Linked DNA regions of Homo sapiens. The protein of the gene in region 2 purifies or fractionates together with the protein of the main gene of each other region. This does not show direct contact. Each region holds a gene or a part of one and is shown on either strand. Other genes may lie near its edges.

Evidence for each region. Proteins that work in one complex are often made in the same cells at the same time.
Region 1: the proteins of PIP (region 2) and ITPKC purify together in Homo sapiens (co-immunoprecipitation; 2 studies listed by BioGRID and IntAct, with this or other methods). This does not show direct contact.
Region 3: the proteins of PIP (region 2) and QRICH1 purify together in Homo sapiens (co-immunoprecipitation; 2 studies listed by BioGRID and IntAct, with this or other methods). This does not show direct contact.

Annotation. Positions count from the first base shown.
Region 1 is NC_000019.10:40,733,537-40,741,111, forward strand, and holds the end of ITPKC (inositol-trisphosphate 3-kinase C), read left to right. Parts: intron 1-3,449; coding exon 3,450-3,551; intron 3,552-4,161; coding exon 4,162-4,233; intron 4,234-5,270; coding exon of another isoform or gene 5,271-5,315; exon of another isoform or gene 5,316-5,820; coding exon 5,821-6,024; 3' UTR 6,025-7,324; downstream 7,325-7,575. UniProt on the Homo sapiens protein: Catalyzes the phosphorylation of 1D-myo-inositol 1,4,5-trisphosphate (InsP3) into 1D-myo-inositol 1,3,4,5-tetrakisphosphate and participates to the regulation of calcium homeostasis.
Region 2 is NC_000007.14:143,127,154-143,135,793, forward strand, and holds the start of PIP (prolactin-inducible protein precursor), read left to right. Parts: upstream 1-4,923; 5' UTR 4,924-4,963; coding exon 4,964-5,058; intron 5,059-8,040; coding exon 8,041-8,146; intron 8,147-8,640.
Region 3 is NC_000003.12:49,084,072-49,091,646, forward strand, and holds part of QRICH1 (transcriptional regulator QRICH1), read right to left. Parts: intron 1-7,575. UniProt on the Homo sapiens protein: Transcriptional regulator that acts as a mediator of the integrated stress response (ISR) through transcriptional control of protein homeostasis under conditions of ER stress.

The DNA of each region.
Region 1 (7,575 bases), on a different chromosome or scaffold from region 2:
TTTATCCGTCTGCCTGAGCATCTCCTGAGTCCATCTTTTCCTCCTCTCCTTCTCCATGGTCATGTCCTAGTCCAGCCCCATCTTCTCCTGCCTCTGTCTCCCTGGGCATCCTGGCCCTGGTCTCCCTGCAGCACAAGAGCTGGAGGGATCCCTTTCCCCCAGCTATGGAGAAGGTTTCTCTTTTTCTTTCTTGCATTCCTTTTTCTTTGTCAAATTAAATATAATTGTATGAATAGGCCAGGCATGGTGGCTCATGCCTGTAATCCCAGCACTTTGGGAGGCCAAGGCAGGAGGATTGCTTGAGGCCAGGAGTAGTTCAGGACTAAGCTGGCCAACATAGGGAGCTTCTGTTTCTAGAAGAAAAAAAAATTGTTTGAATAGCTAGTCACACAGTTCAAAAGTCAAAATAATATTATAAAAGGGTAAATGTGGAGAAATTTCTCTCCCAACTCTGCTGCTGTCCTTCCCATTCTGTCCCTCTATCCCTCTACCTGCTCATGGGGAACCACTTTGTCAGTTTCTTGTATTTCTTCCTGTTAGTGCCAGTAAATGGAGTTGTAGATCCGAAATGTTCCTCAGTACGCATACTGATTGGTACTTTGCTATTTTCACTTAATAGTAACACCCTGCAGAGTTTTCCACATCATTCCATAGAAAGCTTCCTCTTTCTGTTTTTTTTTCCCCCACAGCTATGTAACACTGTTTTTGTGACTGTGCCTGGTCCCCTATAGACAGACACCTGGGTTGTTTCCATTTTTTGCCATTAGCAGGCCTCAAAGAATCACTTTGTATATAAGACATTTTGCAAGTATGCAGATTGAGCTGTAGATTTCCAGAAGCAGGACTCCTGGGTCAAAGCTTAAAGGCATGGGAAATTTGCGAGAGATGACCAAACTTCCACTCTCGGTGTTATGCCACTGCACATCCCACCAGCAATGTATGAGAATGCCTGTTGCAGATCCGACCATGCCATTCTCCTGTTCGAAACCCTTCTGTGGCTCCCTAGTACCTTGAAGTGAAGTTCCATAGCCTGTAGGGCCCTCTAGGATCTAGCCTCTTCTCTCTCATTCTTCTCTTTTCTTTTTTTTTTGAGAAAGAGTCTCGCTCTGTCACCCAGGCTAGAGTGCCATGGCACAGTCTCAACTAATTGCAACCTCCACCTCTTGGGTTCAAGCGATTCTCCCACCTCAGCTTCCTGACTTGACGTGATTACTGGCACGCACTACCATGCCTGGCTAATTGTTGTTTTTTTTTTTTTTTTTGAGACAGAGTCTCGCTCTGTTGCCCAGGCTAGAGTGCAGTAGTACAGTCTTAGCTCACTGCAAACCTCTGCCTCCCGGGTTCAAGCGATTCTTCTGCCTCAGCCTCCCAAGTAGCTGGGATTACAGGTGTGCACCACCGCTCCTGGCTAATTTTTGTATTTTTAGTAGAGACAGGGTTTCACCATATTGACCAGGCTGGTCCTGAACTCCTGACCTTGTGATCCACCCGCCTTGGCCTCACAAAGTGCTGGGATGATTACAGGCGTGAGCCACTGTGCCCGGCCTAATGTTTGTATTTTTAAGAGAGGCGGGGTTTCACTATGTTGACCAGGCTGATCTTGAACTCCTGGCCTCAAGTGATCTGCCTGACTTAGCCTCCCAAAGTGCAGGGATTATAGGCGTGAGCCACCACGCCCAACCTCTCATTCCTCTCATTCTTTCTGTGTACCTTCAGGCACAGTGAAGCACTTGCATTTACTTGAAATAGGCTTGCTTTTTCCTGCCACAAGGCCTCTGCACCCCTCTGCCAGGAATGCTCTTCTATTTTTTTTTTTTTTGAGACAGGGTCTCACTCTGTCATCCCCCAGGCTGGAGTACAGTGGCGCGATCACAGCTCACTGCAGCCTCAATCTCCTAAACTCAAGTGATCCCCCCACCTCAGTCTTTTGAGTAGCTGGGACACAGGTGCGTGCCACCACACCCTGGTCTCTTCCGTCTGTGCCCCCTGGTCTGGTTGATTCTCAGTCATTTTTCTGTCTCCTTTCAAATTTTGCTTCCTCAGGGAAGCCCTCCCTGATTTCTGTTCTACTGATCAGGGTCCCCTCTTCACCTCCTCATAGCTCCTTATACTCTTTCATTATTCTTATCTTCCTTTCTGATCATCTTAATCAGTGTCTGCCCCCTCATCTGACTGTGTCTGTCGTGTTACTCCCTATTGCCAAGTGCCCACATAGCACCTGGCACAGTGTGGCAGATGACTTAGGTGGGTTCTCTGAGCCCTACTGAAACATAACAGATAACATTAGTCTCATTAGTCTCAAATAACTATATGCCAGGCACTGTGCTGTGCATCCTACACACCTGGTTTCCTCTAATCCTTACACCAGCCTTAGCAAGTAGACACCAACACAATTCCCGTTTTCCAGATGAGGAAACTGAGGCTGAGGCAGCTGAAATGACTTAAGACTGCCCAGCTAGAAAAGAGCAGAGATGGCCAGGTGCAGTGGCTCACGCCAGTAATCCTAGCACTTTGGGAGGCCAAGGCGGGCGGAGCATGAGGTCAGGAGATCGAGACCATCCTGGCTAACATGGTGAAACCCCGTTGCTACTAAAAATACAAAAAATTAGCCAGGCGTGGTGGCGGGAGCCTGTAGTCCCAGCTATCAGGAGGCTGAGGCAGGAGAATGGCATGAACCCAGGGGGCGGAGCTTGCAGTGAGCCCAGGTTGCACCACTGCACTCCAGCCTGGGTGACAGAGTGAGACTCTGTCAAAAAAAAAAAGAAAAGAGCAGAGTCACGATTCACAGCCAGCTCCACCCTGCTCCAAAGCCCACTTTCCTAGATGGGTTCAACCAGGAGGTTCAAGGTTGGAAGGGTGTGGAAGGACTGGGGCTCAGGCATGTGACCTGGGGCTGGGTTGAGCTGGGCTGGGCAGGTAAGCTGGCTTCCTCCTCTGGCAGCAAGTGTGCAGGCAGGTGGGTGGCCCTGGGAAGTTGTTTTTTTTGAGACAGAGTCTTGTTCTGTCACCCAGGCTCGAATGTAGTGGTGCAATCAATGCTCACTGCAACCTCTGCCTCCCGGGTTTAAGCGATTTTCCTGCCTCAGCCTCCCGAGTAGCTGGGATTACAGGCGCCCGCCACCACACTTGGCTAATTTTTTGTATTTTTAGTAGAAACGGGGTTTCACCGTGTTGGCCAGGCTGGTTGTGAACTCCTGACCTCAAGTGATCCTCCCGCCTCGGCCTCCCAAAGCACTGGGATTATAGGCATGATCCCACACCTGGGACCACAGGTGCATACTACCACACCAGAATTTTTTTTTTTTTTAAATAGAGATGGGGTCTTGCTGTGTTGCCCAGGCTGGTCTTGGCCACCGCGCCCGGCCTCCTGGGAGGTATTTGAGGTTGCTGGGTATTGGGTGCGGGAAGGAAAAGCCCATGACCCTGCCCCTCCACACCCTGCCCTACAGAAGGCAGATGGGACCTGTAACACCAACTTCAAGAAGACGCAGGCACTGGAGCAGGTGACAAAAGTGCTGGAGGACTTCGTGGATGGAGACCACGTCATCCTGGTGAGTGGGACACCCATGTCCCAGAATGTAGCAGCTTAAGACAGCCACCATTTATTCTTGCTCCAGAGTCAGTGGTCTTCTGCTTTGGGTGGGGCTGGACTGATACTGGCTGGCTTTGCTCAGTCTGAGGTCAGCTGGTGGCTTGGCAAGGCTGGCTGGTCCAGGGGGCCCTGCTCCCAGCTCTGCCGGTTGGCTCATGACTTGGCCGCACGTCTCTCGATAGCAGGATGGCCTGGGCTTGCTCTCACAGTGGAGGCAGGGGGCCAAGAGAACAAGTAAAAATGCAAGGCCTCTTGATGCCTGGGCTCAGAATGGCCACCATCATTTCTGCCGTTCGGCAAGTCATGTGACCCAGCCTGGATCGAGGGGTCTGGAGACAGACTCCGCCTCCGGATGGGAGTGGAAATTCATGGAATCCACCACTCTTCTCCATGCCACCTTGATGAATCCAAGCCCTCACTCCTCTGCCCTGTCTTCCCCATGGCTCCCCTATTCCATCCTGGCTAGAGCCTGCCTGCTCCTTTGGGGGAATGGGGTGAGGTCAGAGCTCAAGGTGGGCAAGGCCCCACAAAGTCCCCATGCTAACCAAAGAACGCTCCCTGTCACACAGCAAAAGTACGTGGCATGCCTAGAAGAACTTCGTGAAGCTCTGGAGATCTCCCCCTTCTTCAAGACCCACGAGGTGCGAGCCCTGGCTTCCATGGGTGGATGTATGGGTGTCGGGGTCCAGGTGCATGGAGGGGAAACCATTGATGAGTTACAGGTCAAAGATATAAAAAGGGGCTGGGCGTTGTGGCCCGCACCTGTAATACCAGCACTTTGGGAGGCTGAGGTGGGAGGATTGCTGGAGCCCAGGAGTGCCAAGACCAGCCTGGGAAGCACAGCAAGACCCCGTCTCTATTTGGAAAAAAAAAAAAAAAAAAAGGCCGGGTGCAGTGGCTCATGCCTGTAATCCCAGCACTTTGGGAGGCTGAGGCGGGCGGATCACTTGAGGTCGGGAGTTTGAGGCCAGCCTGGCCAACATGGCGAAACCCCGTCTCTATTAAAAATACAAAAATTGGCTGGGTGCGGTGGCTCATGCCTGTAATCCCAGCACTTTGGGAGGCCGAGGTGAGCAGATCACGAGGTCAGGAGATCGAGACCATCCTGGCTAACACAGTGAAACCCCGTCTCTACTAAAAAATACAAAAAATTAGCCGGGCGTGGTGGCGGGCGCCTGTAGTCCCAGCTACTTGGGAGGCTGAGGCAGGAGAATGGCATGAACCCGGGAGGTGGAGCTTGCAGTGAGCCGAGATTGTGCCGCTGCACTCCAGCCTGGGCAACAGAGTGAGACTCTGTCTCAACAACAACAACAACAACAACAAAATTAGCCAGAAATTGCTTGAACCCAGTAGGCAGAGGTTGCAGTGAGCTGAGATTGTGTCACTGCACTCCAGCCTGGGCAACAGAGTGAGACTCTGTCTCAAAAAAAAAGCAAAGCTAGGCATGGTGGTGCACACCTGTAGTCTCAGCTACTCAGGAGGCTGAGGCAGGAAGAGGGCTTGAGTCCAGGAGGTCAAGGCTGCAGTGCATTTTGATTATGCCTCACACTGAACATTTGCTGTGTATTTGCTATGTACCAAGCACTGTCTTAAGCACTTAATGTAGATTAATTCCTACATATAATATGCCCAGCAGCCTCTGAGGTAAATGATCCTACAGTCGACCCCTTATCCTCAGGTGATCTCCTCCAAACCCCCAGTGGATGCCGGAAACTGTGGATAGTACTGAACTATAGACTGTGTTTTCTCGATCTGATAACCAAGATGGCTCCTAGGTGACTAGTGGGTGGGTTGCGGATACAGCATAGACTTGCTGAACAAAGGGATGATTCGCATCCCAGGTGGGACGAAGCGGGATGGCACGAGATTTCATCACAGTAGTTAAACCAATGTGCAACTTAAAACTTACACATTGTTTGTTTCTGGAATTTTCCACTTAATATTTTTGGATCGCACTTGACTGAGAGTAACTAAAACCAAAGAAAATGAAACCACGGACTGGGGAGACTAACTGTATTACTCTCACTTTGTATATGAGGACGCAGAACCACAGAGAGGTTAAGACACCTGCCTAAGGCTGCACAGACAGGAGGTGGCACAGCCAGGATATGAATCAGGCAGCCAGGCTCCAGGGTTCATGCTGTCAATCACCCTGCTCTGCTGCCTGTCAGGAAGGGACCTTGGCCAGTGCCTGCTCCTCCCTTAACCTCCCGTCTCTACCCCGGCAGGTGGTAGGCAGCTCCCTCCTCTTCGTGCACGACCACACCGGCCTGGCCAAGGTCTGGATGATAGACTTCGGCAAGACGGTGGCCTTGCCCGACCACCAGACGCTCAGCCACAGGCTGCCCTGGGCTGAGGGCAACCGTGAGGACGGCTACCTCTGGGGCCTGGACAACATGATCTGCCTCCTGCAGGGGCTGGCACAGAGCTGAGCTGCTCAGCCACCATCAGGTTAATTGGATGGCGCCAGTCTGGCTGGAGGAGCCCTGAGATGCCATGGGAGGCCTGAGGTTGGCCACGGGGGAGCTGGCCTCCAGGGACGGGAGAGATTGTGTCATGTGCCACACGAGACCAACGTGGAAAAGTCTGAAGGGCCTTGGGAGACCAGGTAGCACCTGGCCCCATCATGATGCAGGGGTTTTGGGGACCTGGAAGGAAGGTGATGAGGCAGTGAGTCAGAAAAACCAGAACGGGGTCCCCGGATCTGCCGGGAAGGCTTCTGAGGGGCTGCCCTGAGAGCATTCAGTTCACATGTCACAGGGTATGGTGTGACAGGGTGCCTGTGGACACATGAATCACTTCTAACCTGCCTCCCTGTCAGCCTCCAGGCTGCCAGCTGGCTGAGGCCAGGGACTGGGTCAGGCTCATCTGTGGCGCCTCAGAGGGTCAGCATCATTGGTGAACAGATGCAGGCGCTGCTGGACCATCTGGGGAGAGTGACAGTCCATGTCTTCACCAGGGAGCCATTTGAGTGCTGAGCGACAAGAGGCTCAGAGGGCATGACCCCATGGGACTGGATGCGGCCTGAGGGCTGATACCGCTGGGCGGTATCCTGCCCTGCTGTGGCCCTGTGGGATCCTCCGTGTTCCTCGGCGGACTCTGCTGACCTCCTGCAGACCCAAACCACAGCCACATCCCAGCTTCTGTGCCAGCACTGTGACAGTACCTCGCTCCTCTGTGCACCAGATCCGGCCTCAGGACTTACACCTCCTGCCTGACCCCCAGGCTTCTCTCTCCTTTCTCCCAGCAAACTGCAGTGGCAGAAAGGAGGTTCAGAGGCTGGGAAAGTGGGCCTCCCCTTGCAACTCAGAGCTGCTGCACTCAGGAGGGCCCCATCCAATCCCGGGCCCCTGCAGGGAAAAGCGCTGGGTGTGTGTCAGAGGCGCAGGGTGGGTGGGGCTGCCAGCCAGGACCCTGGCCTGCAGCCTGATCCAAACCAAAGACTGTAGAACCCTGGGGTGTGGCTAACGGCCCCTCCAGCACCCATAGCCAGGTCTTCCTGGCCCTTGAGGCTGGGCTGGCGGACAGGCACCTACCTCTTCCTTAAGCTGAAGCTCCCACACTGTCTTCCAGGGCTGAGGAGATGCTCTCCTTTTCTACTGACCATCTTGATACTTATTTATACGAGAGGCAGTTGCTGGACGGGGTAGTACTGGGAAGCAGGAGGCAGAATGGCTCTGCTGAGCCTCCTACCCATGACAACACCCCAATAAACAGAACATTCAGAGCCAATGTCGTAGAGCTTTTTATTTTGCATCTGGAGTGTATTTGGACACGTGGGCTGGGTGGGGTAACAGGATAATGAGCAGTTTGGGAAAGAGGCAGGCTCCAAGCAGGCTGGTTCACTCACTTGGCAGTCACTGGGCGGCTATTCTTGTGCCTGGATGTGTTACAATGCAGGGGACACAGTGGTGAGCAAGGCTGCTCCAAGCCCTGGCTGGGATGGGGGATGCACAGACAGGCTGATCAGGGCTGGGATGGTG
Region 2 (8,640 bases):
AACTGAGAGTCTGATACCTTTAAAGGTCTGAAAGAAACATTTACCTATTCTCTCTGAGGGCTACTATCTGTGAGATTTCACCTGCATAGTGAGGACTAAGCTCTGTTTTTGTGTGTGTGTATTTGTTTGTTTTAATCTTGGCCAAATTCCTATCTAAGGGGTCTGGAGACCATAAATGCTCATCAGATGGGTTTTATTTTAACCCTGTATATGGTGACTTACTTTCCAATCTGACTCTGGCATAACAAGGAAGAAAATCAAAATGTTTTACCCCCAAATACATTTCCTTGCCATGCCTTGAAATTGCCCTGCAAAGTCTCTTGTGGGAAAAATCCACATTCTATAGAGAATCCCCTTACTCCTTTCTTTTCCTTCCTTCCTTTCCAGATCCAGGAGATAATCACCTATGAGCCAGGCACCCTTTTAAGTCCGATAAGAAACATTTTACCACCTGCTATCTCTGAAGTCTGCTATCTGAGAGCTTCTTCTGCACAGTAAAACTTGATCTCCACAATCCTTTATCTTAACCTGAACATTTTCTTTCTATTGACCCCAGGTCTTCAGATAAACTCAACTAATTGTCAAACAGAAAATGTTTAAATTTACCTATAGCCTAGACCCCTCCCCCCGCCCCTGCCCTTTGAGTTGTCCCACCTTTCTGAACCAAACCAATGTCTTTCTTAAATGTATTTGATGGATGTCTCATGCCTCACTTAAAATATATAAACCAAGCTGTACCCCCACCTCCTTGGGCACATGTTCTCAGGACCTCCTGAGGGCTGTGTCACAGGCCATGATCACTCATATATGGCTTAGAATAAATCTCCTAAAATATTTTACAGAGTTTAACTCTTTTGGTCGACAATAGCAAGACCACCTTTGCTAGCCAGGCTTCCTCTTTTCCCCTCCCATAACCTGTAGCACCACTGTAACCTGATTTACTACCATAACCTGGTTTTGGCCATGCTCCAAGACCTCATTCTTTTGTAACCTCAAGATGGTACATGAGCTTCTGTACTCCCACTGAGGAGTTGGAGGTCATCATTCTCTCCCATGCACGTTAATAAACTTGTATGCCATTTCTCCTATTAATCTACTTTTTGTCAGTTTATTTCTCAGTGAAACTTCAGAAGGCAGAAAAAAAGTTTTCCCTTGGCCCCTACATCACCAGGGTGACCTTAGAAATGACACTAAAGGCCAGGCATTGTGGCTCACGCCTGTAATCCCAGCCCTTTGGGAGGCCAAGGGGGGGTGGATCACCTGAGGTCAGGAGTTTGAGACCAGCCTGGACAACATGGTGAAACCCCGTCTCTACTAAAAATAAAAATAATTAGCTGGGTGTGGTGGCAGGCACCTGTAATCCCAGTTACTCAGGAGGCTGAGACAGGAGAATCACTTGAACTTAAGAGGTGGAGGTTGCGGTGAGCCGAGATTGCGCCACTGCACTCCAGCCTGAGTGACAAGAGTGCAACTCCACCAAAAAAAAAAAAAAAAAAAAAGGAAGAAAGAAAGAAATGACACTAAAGATGACAGAGTTTCTAAGAAAAGAGTCACACTCCAGCTTCTCTCACCTCTGAGAGATTTTGCTTGGATATAACCTCCTCTAAGAAACAACTCATTACATCTTACATCTTCAGTATGCATTAGATGCCCTTCTACAAGTCTTGTGCCAATTATGCTTTTATTAAGTAAGAGGAAATATAGAGTAGTCACTCTAAGTGCCAACTCCGGATTCACTTCTATCTGGGTTCCAATGGTTTGGCTTAGTCATATGGCCAAGCCAAACTTCAATACCTTTGTTATTTGTTGGCTCTGTGACTTGAACAACTTATTAAAACCTCTGTGAGTTTCCTTTTCTCAACTTTAAACTGTTGCTACATCAATAAATAGACTAGACAAGTGTTTAAGGACATAAACTCTGGTATCAGACTACTTGATTTTGAACCCCTAACTCTGCCAGTTACTAACTTTGCAACTTGTTCTCGCCAGTAGGCAGTGCAGTGGTTAAAGGGTCATGTTCCAGGGCCAGACTGCCAGCGTGGAAATTCTGGCCCCACCCAAAGGTGTATTCGCCATTAAGTTAATGGCATGAAGCCTCAGGGCTTCCTACTTATGGGTGCCTCCTCCAAGATCCTGTACCTGTAGTTTACATTTGTAAGTTTGGATTCTATTTCAAAAAGAGGTTCTCAGATACTGTAAATCAAAACTCAGATTCCACAAAACCTGCTTGCAAAGTTGACTCTGCCATATACTGGCTATATGGTCTGGGTTAGATATTTATCTCCTGGGTCTCTGTTTCTCCTCTTGTAAAATGGAATAAAAATGGCAACCACCTTCACAGGGTTGTAATAAAGATTGAGCTAATATATGTTAAAATGTTTAGAGCAGTGTAATGCACACAGCATATGCTTCATGTGTGTTGGTGTCTATAACTCCCTCTCTGTCCACTCCTTATCTTCTTCTCATGAGCCCTGTCAGGACTAAGATTATCTTTCTCTTTGTAAACTTAGCCTGTGGCAAGCCTCACCTATATTCTAACTCTTTCCCTATGGGACTATACACATTCTCTTCTGTAAGCTTCCTGAGTTGTTTACAATCTGATTTTATCAACCTTTATCTGATTTCTTAAACCTAGACTTGTTCATTCTTTATGGCATAATAATTATGGTTTCTTTTTCTCCCTAATCTTCTTCCTCAAGGGACCTCAAGCTTTTCTCTTAAGACTTTCAACTGATCCAATGAGTCTGACCCATATTATGGAGGTAATCTGTTTTACTCAAATTTTACTGATTTAAATGTTAATCACATTTAAAACAAACAAACAAACAACAACTTCACAGCAACTTCTAAACTGTTGTTTTTCCAAAAAGTGGGCACCATGCCTAGCTAAGCTAACAAATAAAAGTAACCATCACAGCAGTCATGGCCTGAATAAGACTTGTCCTAGGCCAGGCACAGTGGCTCACACCTGTAATCCCAGCAATTTGGGAGGCCGAGGCAGGTGGATCACTTGAGGTCAGGAATGTAAGATCAGCTTGGCCAACATGGTGAAACCCCATCTCTACCAAAAATACAAAAATTAGCCGGGTATGGTGGCACCTGCCTATAATCCCCACTACTCGGGTGGCTGAGGCATGAGAATTTCCTGAACCCGGGAGGTGGAGGCTGCAGTGAGCTGAGATCATGCCACTGCACTCCAGCCTGGATGAGTGAGATTCTGTCTCAAAAAAAAAAGATTGTCCTGTACATTGTAGGTATTGCAGTTTCCTGCTAGCTCACAGAAGAACAGCCTCATTACCTTCAATAGATGCTCTTAACCCATCGTCATCTGCCTTCCTCTGGACACTGCCTTTTGGGAGTGCTGGAGTTGCATCCTCAAGGACAGGGCTATGCCTTCAAAGAGCCAAGCAAAGAACTTTTCCTGCATTTTCCCACACAGACACTTCCTAGATTCTTCTGCCTTATGCCTGCCTTGGTCAGTGTAGCTAGGATGTGCTTCAAATGGAAATTATGCAAGTGAGAAGGACCAGGTGTAAAGACAATTTAATTGTGGGAAAAGGCTTACAAAGGAAGGTCATTGTGACCCTCACAAGCAGTGTTCTTGAGTGGATAGGACATAAACAGGGAAGAAAGCATGTGATCATGAGAACAGCTGAAGTTCTGAGTGAGCAATGACATGAATGGTGTCCAATTCAAAGAAAAGAGAAGGTAGATCCAGGAGCTGAATAAACAGACAGAGCAATTTTGAGAGATACATCCAGAAAGCAGAAGCACACACTTACACTTTAGCTCTGAATCCTGGCTAAAGCAACATACAGAGGCGGTAACTCCTAGAACTCTGATTTTCACTCTGTTGCCAGAGAGGCTCTTCCTGGGCAGCTGTGTGCCATGCAAATGATAGAAACAAATCCCATAGTATTGTAAGTCATAGGTTAAGGAGCAGATTTAATTTCATAAGGAGAAATAACACAATGCCAGTGTCAGCAAGAGCAAGTCTCCCCATCATCCCAAGGAGAGGAATTCTACAACCTGGGTATCTACTGGACATAATGTGGGCTCCATTCTCACAGAAGGAATCCTTTCCACTGTGGTTCTTCCTGTGTGGCTTACGCATGAGACAAGTGTAAGAAAGTGGCCATGTCAATAAGAAAATAAGCCAGCTCTTTGGTGCCAAGAAGTCTGATTTGGGGGTGCCAGCTATTTATAGGAATTGTCTAGAATTAAAATATCACCCTGCCTTGGGGATTGTGGGGCAGCTGGGGATCTTGGACATCTGCAGTATATTGCAACCACACCTGAAATTAAGAAGGACTCAATGACAATAAACATCTTTACATCACCCAGTGTCTTGAACTCACTTCCCCATCATGTAGAGCAGCTCAGGTCTTCTCTAGCTCTTCCACCTCATGATGGGTAGTGACTGCTAGGGAAGTCCTGATCATCCTAGCCCTCCAAGAAATGTTTTGAATAGCATTGCATCTTGAACTCACTATAATTTGATCAAGCAAAGATGTTCTATGTCTCTGGTCTGAAACCTGCCACCACAGCTGTGTTCTCTGCTTTCAGAGACCAGGGGAGCAGTGACTGAAGCTAAGACTACACATAGCACTTCAGACAGGCAAATTAGGAGGGAAAAGAAAACTGAATCTGTAAACTCGGGAAAAACTGGTGTATCTTTTGAGGTCCCAGCCATTTTGAGAAACTCTGATGCTGAAAAAATAAGGAAGAACAATCTGACTCCTCTCTCAAACGCTGACATTCTAGCTGAGTGTTGATTTTTTCTTAGAAAAACAAACTTTGGGTCAACAAGGAAAGATCACGAGTGGGGAGGGTGAATGGGTGATTCACCTCATGGATCTCCCTGGCAGCTCTTGCACTTCCTTGATCAATCTGTATATAAGAAATGTGCTGGGCACCTGGGACACCACTTCTCTGGGACACATTGCCTTCTGTTTTCTCCAGCATGCGCTTGCTCCAGCTCCTGTTCAGGGCCAGCCCTGCCACCCTGCTCCTGGTTCTCTGCCTGCAGTTGGGGGCCAACAAAGCTCAGGACAACACGTGAGCCATGCCCTTCTCCTCCCCACAAAAAAAATTGCAGGGAGGGCTCCTCTCCCAGTCTGGAAATTACATATCTCTTTCTGAGAATTTCTTTCAACTTCCCAGAACTCTAGTCCCAGGAGCTCCCATGGATCTCCTGCCAGGTTCCACTTCTTGTCCTCTTAGGAAGCCCCACCAACTCCTCTCACATTTTTGCTGGGTGTTTCTGCATTGCCAGTGGAAATAAAGCTCCAAATGTACCTACAGGCTGTAATTAGTAGTTAGTCTTCATCTAACATGCTGATCCACATCTTGTTCATAATTTATACCTTTGTTCAGATTTCTGCTCAGTAAACTTTACCTTCTCACACCTTGCCTCCTAGAAGAGAAGCATAACAGGTCTGTGAATTCCAATGGCAGCTTAGGGCAGCTTTGGCAGGACTGGCTAAAGGACCAGAGGCCCTGGCCACTGCCCTGTGGTCTGAGATTGAGCTAGACTGGCAGCTTAGACATTCTTCCTAACCTGAAGTCTGAAGATGAATATGATGACCTCTTGCTCTCACGTATACTGGGACCTGAGAGCACAGGTTCAGAAGTCAACTTATTGAGAACACATGTGTGAAGGAAGCAGAAAAATTGGAGCAAGTAAAATAAAGTAGAAAATGGAGCCAAGGGTCTGGGAGAAAGCAGCGATACCCAATCTAGGGAGTTTTCTCTATAGCAGTAGGGTTTATAATGCTGGGTTTCTGGGTTGTGATCTTGGAGGTACTCTCTATGGCATGGTCAGATATCCTGTCCTGGAGGAAACTGTTCAGGGTTTTGACAAGCTAATGTAATGGAGGCAAGTGTCCCAAGAAACCCTGCATGGGGACAGGTTCAGATCCCACCCCATTCCCGCCAGATGACAGTCCACTTAGCCCTGAAGGGCAGCAAGGTATTCAAATAAGCTATGCTAATTAGGTTATCAACCATCCATCCTGATTTGCCCAGAACTTTCCTGGTTGTAGCACTGCAACTCTGCCCTCCCCCGCCACCTCCACAACCCATTCTGGAAAAGACCTCAGTCCTGGGTAAACTGAGATGGTTAGTCACTCGAACTAAGCTGGTCATCCTATCAATCTGAAACTCATATACAAATGGGAGAGATTTTGAAGTTGCTTAGGTATTTATACCCTTTTCCTGTGCACTGGGCACTACAGCAGTTGGCACCAAAAAATAGAATCTCTCTAAGATGCTTTGCCCCAAGAAAATGGGGCTGTGAGACACTGTGGGCTAAGAATCTCAATTCCCTTCTGTCCCACACAATAACAAAGGTCCGTAGCCGGGAGTTTCTAGGGACGAGAAAATAACTCTCCTGGCCCCGAACCCAGTCCTCATTGACTGAAGAAGAACATTTGACCATTTTATTTGTCTCCATTTCCTTTCCTTTTCAGATTGCAGTGTATGGTCTAAATGTAGAGTAGTATCTAAAGTTCCCAAACATGGCCATATGTCCAAATTTCCTAAGGAGCTAAATAAATACAAATTCCTAAACCCTACCTGGGGACCACAGAAGGAGGATCTTCAAAGATGCTCCTACAAATACCTCCAGTGCATTGAGATGTTTGCTGGGTTTTTAAAATTTTTTATTATTTTATTTTATTTTTCCATAAGTTACTGGGGTACAAGTGGTATTTGGTTACATGAGTAAGTTCTTTAGTGGTGATGAGATTTTGGTGCACCCATCACCCGAGCAGTATACACTGCACCATATTTGTAGTCTTTTAGCCCTCACCCCTCTCCCACTCTTCCCCGCAAGTCCCCAAAGTCCATTGTATCATTCTTATGCTTTTGAGTCCTCAAAGCTTAGCTCCCACATATCAGTGAGAACATACGATGTTTGGTTTTCCATTACTGAGTTACTTCACTTAGAATAATAGTCTCCAATCTCATACAGGTCACTGCAAATGCTGTTAATTCATTCCTTATTATGGCTGAGTAGTAGTATTCCATCATATATATATATATATATATATATATATATATATATATATATATATATATACCACAGTTTCTTTATCCACTCGTTGATTGATGGGCATTTGGGTTGGTTCCACAGTTTTATAATTGTGAATTGTGCTGCTATAAACATGTGTGTGCAAGTATCTTTTTTGAATAATGACTTCTTTTCCTCTGGGTAGATACCCAGTAGTGGGATTGCTGGATCAAATGGTGGTTCTATTTTTAGTTCTTTAAGGAATCTCCACACTGTTTTACATAGTGGTTGTAGCAGTTTACATTCCCGTCAGCAGTATAGAAGTGTCCCCTGATCACTGCATCCACGCCAACATCTACTGTTTTATGATTTTTTGATTACGGCCATTCTTGCAGGAGTAAGGTGGTATCGCATTGTGGTTTTGATTTGCATTTCCCTGATCAAGAGGTTTGCTGGTTTAATGTGATTCTGTTGCTAGAAAATTTTCTCCTAATAATGACTTGAGCCCTCCTACTCAGTAGACAACCACCAGAGCCTGTAGGATGTTATCAGGAAGTGGCATGTGGTATTGTACATTTTTTCTTTTTAAAAACTTGTTTTTGGTCAATGGAAGGGAAGAAGATGCTCGTTCATTGATGGGCATTTGGGTTGGTTCCATGATTTTGCAATTGTGAATTGTGCTACTATAAACATGCATGTGCAAGTATCTTTTCTAAATAATGACTTCTTTTCCTCTGGGTAGATACCCAGTAGTGGGATTGCTGGATCAAATGGTAGTTCTACTTTTAGTTCTTTAAGGAATCTTAAAGTGTCCTAGTTGTTTTATTAAACAAAATTAAATCTGTGTGAAGTTACCAATCCAATCAACACATGAAAATTCCAGGGGATTCCAATGCTGAACAATTGATCCAAGCCCCATAATTTCCCTCCCTTGCCCATCCTGTGCCCCTTGCCCTGTTCATGGCTCCCCCCTCACTCAAAGATTGGTCTCTGATCCTGGTGTTCTGATTCTCTCTTCCCACAATCAGTCGGAAGATCATAATAAAGAATTTTGACATTCCCAAGTCAGTACGTCCAAATGACGAAGTCACTGCAGTGCTTGCAGTTCAAACAGAATTGAAAGAATGCATGGTGGTAAGTAGAGGACTGGGGGCGTGACTTCAAAAGATAATTCAACTCCTTGATTATAAACATAATTTAATCTCTCACTTTAATAATGTACAGTGTACTTAATGAAACATTCTCACTTATGTTATGCTACTTGAGACTCAGAACAACTGTGGGAGCTTGGGACAGATGACTTCTCATTTTCCAGATGAAGAAGTTCGAATCCAGAGAAGTCTAGGATAAATAAGAAGGAAAGGAAGAAGGAATAGGAAGTGAGAAAGAGGGAAAAAGAAAAAAGTGTAAGAGCTAGTAGAGAAGCAGTTAGAGTCCTTCCAAGGTCCTGAGCATGTTTAGTTTAGGATGGAGGGAGGGGAGTTCTCAGAAGAGAAAGCAGCAACTCCACACCATAGGTTGAGGTGGGTGGGCAGAAGAGGACATGCAGGATATGACTCCTCCTCTCCAGTAAGCACTGAGCGACTCTACTGTCCTCTTGCCTTCTTCTGCTCCTTTGCTCTGGGTCA
Region 3 (7,575 bases), on a different chromosome or scaffold from region 2:
TTACAGGTATGAGCCACCGCACCCGGCCCACATCCGGCTAATTTTTATATTTTTAGTAGAGATGAGGTTTTGCCATGTTGGCCAGGCTGGTCTCGAACTCTTAACCTCAGGTAATCCACTCGCTTCCACCTTCCAAAGTGCTGGGATTACAGGCATGAGCAACCACACCCAGCCTAAATTCTTTTTTATTTTTATTTTTATTGAGACACAGTGTTGCTCTGTCGCCCAGGCTGGAGCGTAGTGGCACGATCCTGGCTCACTGAAACCTCCGCCTCCTAGGTTCAAGCAATTCTCCTGCCTCAGCCTCCAAAGTGGCTGGGATTACGGGCACCCGCCACCATGCCCAGCTAATTTTTGTATTTTAGTAGAGACGGGATTTCGCCATGTTGGTCAGGATGTACTCAAACTCCTGACCTCAAGCGATCCACAGCATCGGTCTCCCAAAGTGCTAGGATTACAGGCGTGAGCCATCACATCCAGCCAAGATTGTGAGACCAGCCTGGCCAACATGGTGAAACCCCATCTCCACTAAAAATACAAAAACTAACAGGGCATGGTGGCAGCCACCCGTAATCCCAGCTACTCTAGAGGCTGAGGCAGGAGAATTGCTTGAATCCGGGAGGCGGAGGTTGTAGTGAGCTGAGACTGCGCCACTGCACTTCAGCCTGGGGAAAGAGTGAGACTCCACCTCAAAAAATGATAAAAAGGAATGCTAACAGTAGTTATGCCTAGATGATGGAACCACAGAGTAATTAAGTTTCTTCTGTTAAACACTCTTCTGAATTTTCCACAAGTGGTATTAATCTAAGGCTCACGCCTGTAATCCCAGCACTTTCCGAGGCAGGCAGATCACCAGATCAGGAGATCGAGACCATCCTGGCTATCACGGTGAAACCCCGTCTCTACTAAAAATACAAAAAAATTAGCCGGGTGTGGTGTTGGGCGCCTGTAGTCCCAGCTACTCGGGAGGCTGAGGCAGGAGAATGGTGTGAATCTGGGAGGTGGAGCTTGCAGTGAGCCAAGATCGTGCCACTGCACTCCAGCCTGGGCGACAGAGCAAGACTCCGTCTCAAAAAAAAAAAAATCATCTTTTTCTACACAGTGGCTATAGTGTAGTAATGGTAAGACACATAATTCTGGCTGATCATAGTATGATTTTCTTTCAAAATCTGAAAGAAACTAAACCGGCCGAAAGAGGTGGCTCATGCCTGTAATCCCAGCATTTTGGGAGGCCGAGGCAGGCGGATCACCAGGTCAGGAGATCGAGACCATCCTGGCTATCACGGTGAAACCCCATCTCTACTAAAAATACAAGTGGTTATAGTGTAGTAATGGTAACAGACACGTAATTCTGGTTGATCATAGTACGATTTTCTTTCAAAATCTGAAAGAAACTAAACCTGCCGAACGAGGTGGCTCATACCTGTAATCCCAGCACTTTGGGAGGCCGAGGTGGGTGGATCACCTGAGGTCAGTAGTTTGAGACCAGCCTGACCAACATGATGAAACCCCGCCTCTACTAAAAATACAAAAAAAATTAGCCAGGTGTGGTGACACGTGCCTGTAATCCCAGCTACTCGGAAGGCTGAGACAGGAGAATCGCTTGAACCTGGGAGGTGGAGGTTGCAGTGAGCCAAGACCATGCCACTGCACTCCGGCCTGGGCAACAAGGGCAAAACTCCATCTCAAAAAAAAAAAAAAGAAAAAGAAACTAAACCATAAAATACCAAAAACTTGTACAAAATAATGAAGACTTAACTTCAAGATGCTGCACATAAGACACAAAAGTTGAGCCTTCGTAATAAAGAGAAATGGAGAAACTTCTAAAAGAGACAAAAGATTCTTAATTAGCTCCAAGTAAAAGACTTAGTAAGAAGCAATAAAGAAATTAATTAAAGTATTTCTGAAAAACATGCAGCCATGAGGATATCTGAGTGTTCCCAATTTCTGGGACTCTGATGAGACTAATAATGAAAAAAGAAAATACTCTAATGCTCTTGGGGTGTATGAGGTCTGTAAACAAGCATTTACTTCTAAACGCTTTTAAATATAGCTGCATTGTAAAAAAAAAAAAATAAGTAACAATAAAGGAAAGCCAGCCCTCCCTTAAACAGACCCTGGACATTTTTGCTGGTATAAAATCAAATTGTTCACTGGTATCTCCTCTGTATCTCCCTCTTTTTCTTTTTCTTTTTTTTTTTTTGAGATGGAGTCTCACTCTGTCGCCCAGGCTGGAGTGCAATGGTGCGATCTCGGCTCACTGTAAGCTCCACCTCCTGGATTCACACCATTCTCCTGCCTCAGCCTCCCAAGTAGCTGGGACTACAGGCACCCACCACCACGCCCGGCTAATTTTTTTGTATTTTTAGTAGAGACGGGGTTTCGCCGTGTTAGCCAGGATGGTCTCGATCTCCTGACCTCGTGATCCTCAGCCTCCCAAAACTGGGATTACAGGTGTGAGCCACTGCGCCTGGCTCCTCTGTATTTCCTCCTACTGGAGCTTAGCATAGTGCCTGATGCACAGCAATTCTTCACTACATGAGTTATTATTTTTATTATTTTATTATTAGAACATAAGATGGTACCATGGACAAAGGTTACTCCAAAACAACAATCTATTACATTTCTATAGGTCTGTTTGCTAATTTTTTTCTTTTTTCCGTTTAGGTACCAAGGGAAGATCTTATTGCAATCACTGTTTCTTGGGTTTCTTATCCCTGATACCTCTTTTGGGCCCCCTGTATGGCTCTGCAGAGTGAGTCTTCAATCCGTGATGGACTAAAAGAAGTCTGAACTGCCTCAGAACCTTACCTCTTCCTTGGGCTTTGAGGCCCCTCAAGGTTCACATCTACTCCAACAATGGCTCTTCATAGCTTAGTCCAGTTTGAATACATTCATATGGGGCCCGGTGCAGTGGCTCACGCCTGTAATCCCCAGCACTTTGGGAGGCTGAGGTGGGCGGATCACCTGAGGTTGGGAGTTCAAGACCAGTCTGGCCAACGTGGTGAAATCCCATCTCTACCAAAAACACAAAAATTAGCCAGGCGTGGTGGTGGGCACCTGTAACCTCAGCTACTCGGGAGGCTGAGGCAGGAGAATCACTTGCACCCAGCAGCCGGAGGTTGCAGTGAGCCGAGATCGCGCCACTGCACTCCAGCCCGGGCAACAAGAGCAAAACTCTGTCTCAAAAAAATAAAATAAAATAGGCCAGGCACAGTGGCTCACGCCTATAATCCCAGCAGTTTGGGAGGCTGAGGCAGGCAGATCACAAGGAGTTTGAGACCAGCCTAGCTAATATGGTGAAACCCTGTCTCTACTAAAAATACAAAAATTAGCCAGGTGTGGTGCCTGTAGTCCCAGCTACTAGGGAAGCTGAGGCAGGAGAATTACTTGAACCCGGGAGGCGAAGGTTGCAGTGAGCCACGATCGCACCACTGCACTCCAGCCTGGGCAACAGAGCAAGACTCCATCTCAAAAAATAATAAGAAAAATAAATTTAAAAAAAATAAAAATAAAAAAATAGGCCAGGTGCAGTGGCTCATGCCTGTAATCCTAGCACGCTGGAAGGCCGAGTCGGGCATATCACGAGGTCAGGAGTTCAAGACCAGCCTGGCCAACATGGTGAAACCCCATCTCTACTAAAAATACAAAAATTAGCCAGGCGGGGTACCATGCGCCTGTAGTCCCAGCTACTCGGGAGGCTGAGGCAGAAGAATTGCTTGAACTCAGGAGGCGGAGGTTCATCTCAAAAAAAAAAAAAAAAAAAAAGAACAATGTCTTCTATGCTTCTTTGAAATAACTCCATATGTTTATAAGACAGACATGACTCCTTAAAATGGAAATTGATTTTTTTTCCATGTGAATATATTCATTTTATTTCATTTATTTTTTTTTTTTTGAGACAGAGTCTCACTCTGTCACCCAGGCTGGAATGCAGTGGCACAATCTCGGCTCACTGCAAGCTCTGTCTCCCGGGTTCACGCCAGTCTCCTGCCTCAGCCTCCCAAGTAGCTGGGACCACAGGCGCCCGCCACCACATCCAGCTAATTTTTTTGTATTTTTTAGTAGAGAGAAAGTTTCACCGTGCTAGCCAGGATGCTCTCGATCTCCTGACCTCATGATCTGCCCGCCTCGGCCTCCCAAAGTGGTGGGATTACAGGCGTGAGCCACCGTGCCCGACCAGAATTGACGTATTTCTATTCTTTTGCCTGGGTTTTGTTTCTTTGTATTTTTATTTTTTTGAGACGAAGTCTCGTTTTCTCACCCAGGATGGAGTGCAATGGCATCATCTCGGCTCAATGCAACCTCCGTTTCCCAGGTTCAAGTGGTTCTCCTGCCTCAAGCCTCCCTAGTAGCTTGAACTACAGGCGCACGCCACCCAGCCCAGCTAATTTTTTTGTATTTTTAGTAGAATCGGGGTTTCACCATATTGGCCAGGCTGTTCTCGAACTCCTGACCTCAGGTGAGGAGTTCATTTCCACGGCCCCCCTCGACCTCCCAAAGTGCTGGGATTACATGCCTGAGCCACTGCACCAGGCTTTTGTCTGTTTTTTTTTTTTTTTTTTTTTTAATGAGACAAGGTCTTGCTCCACTACCCAGGATAAAATGCAGTGGTGCATTCATAGATCCCTGCAGCCTCACACTCCTGGGCTCAAACAATCCTCCTGCCTCTGCCTCCCGAGTAGCTGGGACTACAGGTCCATGCTACCACATCCAGCTATTTTTATTTTTCTGTAGAAATGGGGTCTTGCCATCTTGCCCAGGCTGGTCTCCAACTCCGGGGCTCAAGCAATCCTCCCACCTTGGCCTCCCAAACTGCTGGGATTACAGGCATGAGGCACTGTGTTCCACCCATATTTCGATTTTTAAGGATACTAGCCAACTGCAGGGTTTGTGATAGAAGTTATCCCATTAGGCCATTTATATGCCCCATGCCAGAGGAGTCCCTGGTTTAGGGGCATTTTCATCACGGTTCTATTTTCTTTTTTTCTTTTCTTTTTTTTTTTTTAAATGGAGTCTCGCTCTGTCCCCCAGCTTGGAGTGCAATGGTGCCCTCTCAGTTCACTGCAACCTCCGCCTACAGGTTCAAGCGATTCTCCTGCCTCATCTTCCCGAGTAGTTGGGATTACAGGCGCCCATCACCATGCCCTGCTAATTTTTGTATTTTTAGTAGAGACGGGATTTCACCATGTTGGCCAGGCTGGTCTGGAACTCCTGACCTTAGGTGATCCGCCCGCATTGGCCTCCTAAAGTAATGGGATTACAGGCATGAGCCACTGCACCCGGCCATGGTTCTATTTTCAATCAGGAAACTAAAATTTGTATTTTTCCCAAATATTGACGGATTGTAAACTGGCACAACCACTTGCATTATCTAGTGAAGCTGAAAATATCCATTCCACGAACCTGAGCAATTTTACCCATCAGTATATATGAAGGAACTTTTTTTTAAACAAGGGTACTTAATACAAGAATGTTCACAGCAGCATTGTTAAGAGCCAAAAGCTGGAAGCAACCCAGATATCTATCAATAGTGGAATAGATAAATACCTTATGGTGTATTCATACAACAGAATACTACATAAAAAATGGAAATGAACAGCTGCACACAATGTGAACAAATTTCAGAAACATTATGCTAAGACAACATAATACAGCATGACTCCATTTATACAAAACTCATAAGGAAACAAATCTAAACTAGGTTAAGGGCTACGGAGATGGTAAATGTAAAAAGAAGAAGAATGTTATCACAGAATAACAGCTGTCTGTACGGCTTGAGAAGCTGTGATCAGGAAGGGACCCACGAAGGGTTCAGAGATACTGGCATCGTTTTATTTCTTGAAAAAGTAGTACTTTCGCCAGCATTTACTTTATAATTTGTCATTAAATTGTACAGAGATCGCCTAAATTTACATGGATGGATAAATATTTCACAAATTTTAAAACAAAGAAAAACATGGGCGGGCGCAGTGGCTCACGCCTGTAATCTCAGCACTTTGGGAGGCCAAGGTAGGCAGACCACGAGGTCAGGAGTTCAAGACCAGCCTGACCAACATAGTGAAACTCCGTCTCTACTACAAATACAAAAAATTAGCCAGACATCAGCCGGGCACAGTGGCTCACGCCTGTAATCCCAGCACTGTGGGAGGCCGAGGCGGGCGGATCACGAGGTCAGGAGATCAAGACCATGCTGGCTAACACGGTGAAACCCCGTCTCTACTAAAACTACAAAAAATTAGCCGGGCATGGTGGCAGGCACCTGCAGTCCCAGCTACTCGGGAGGCTGAGGCAGGAGAATGGCGTGAACCCAGAAGGTGGAGCTTGCAGTGAGCCGAGATCGTGCCACTGCACTCCAGCCTGGGCAGCAGAGCGAGACTACGTCTCAAAAAAAAAAAAAAAAAAAATTAGCCCAGCGTGGTGGCGGGCACCTGTAATTCCAGCTACTCCAGAGGCTGAGGCAGGAGAATTGCTTGAACCCGGAAGGTGGAGGTTGCAGTGAGCCGAAATCGTGCTACTGCACTCCAGCCTGGGCGACAAGAGTGAAACTCCATCTCAAAAAAAAAAAAAAAAGAGAAAAGAGAAAAAGAGAAAAATATTAGCCTTCTGACACAGCCACCATTTCTACCTACAGTTTTGCCCTGGCCTGAAGAGTGAGACCAAAGGAGCACTCCTTCCCTCTTTCAGCAAAGGAAGAAATTAATCTACCATTTCTTCATGCAGCCACATCAATTTAATAACAGAAATCACAATCTAATGTAATAACTAGGAAAAAATACAAAGGAAGCATTTAAGTGAAGTCTGAAGAGGACTTAAAACATCTGGAACAAAATGCAGTACAACAGAATAACAGAAAAGAACAGGTAATAGGCCAGGCGCGGTGGCTCACGCCTGTAATCCCAGCACTTTGGGAGGCCAAGGTGGGAGGATCCCGAGGTCAGGAGATTGAGACCATCCTGGCTAACAGAGTAAAACCCCGTTTCTACTAAAAAATACAAAAAATGAGACAGGCATGGTGGCGGGAGCCTGCAGTCCCAGCTACTCCGGAGGCTGAGGCAGGAGAATGGCGTGAACCCAGGAGGCAGAGGTTGCAGTGAGCCAAGATTGCACCACAGCACTCCAGCCCGGGCAACAGAGCGAGACTCCGTCTCAAAAAATAATAATAAAAATAAAAAGAAAAGAACAGGTATTCATGTAACACCTAATTCTAAGGCTAATTCAGAAATCAGAGACCCTTACAGATCAAGAGTGGCCATTTAAAAAGCAGACAAGAAAGAAATATGGCACATGAAGTATAAACCACAACTAATTAAACTAAAAGAAAGCATATCCAAAAAAAAAAGCATATCCAAAGTAAGGAAAGACATCCCTGATTCTGAAGCTGCCTTAAAGAAAGGCAGCCACATCCAGAGCCCCTGACTTTGGTTACTTTCCTAGAGCAATTCAAATTTACAAGAAAATTAAACCACTATTTGATCTTTAGTTTGAAATGGCAACATAAGCTGGAGAGAGGATGTGGAACTGCAGAGGTTCTCGAAGAGTTATAGGAAAAATTCATCAGAGAGGACCCGAAGG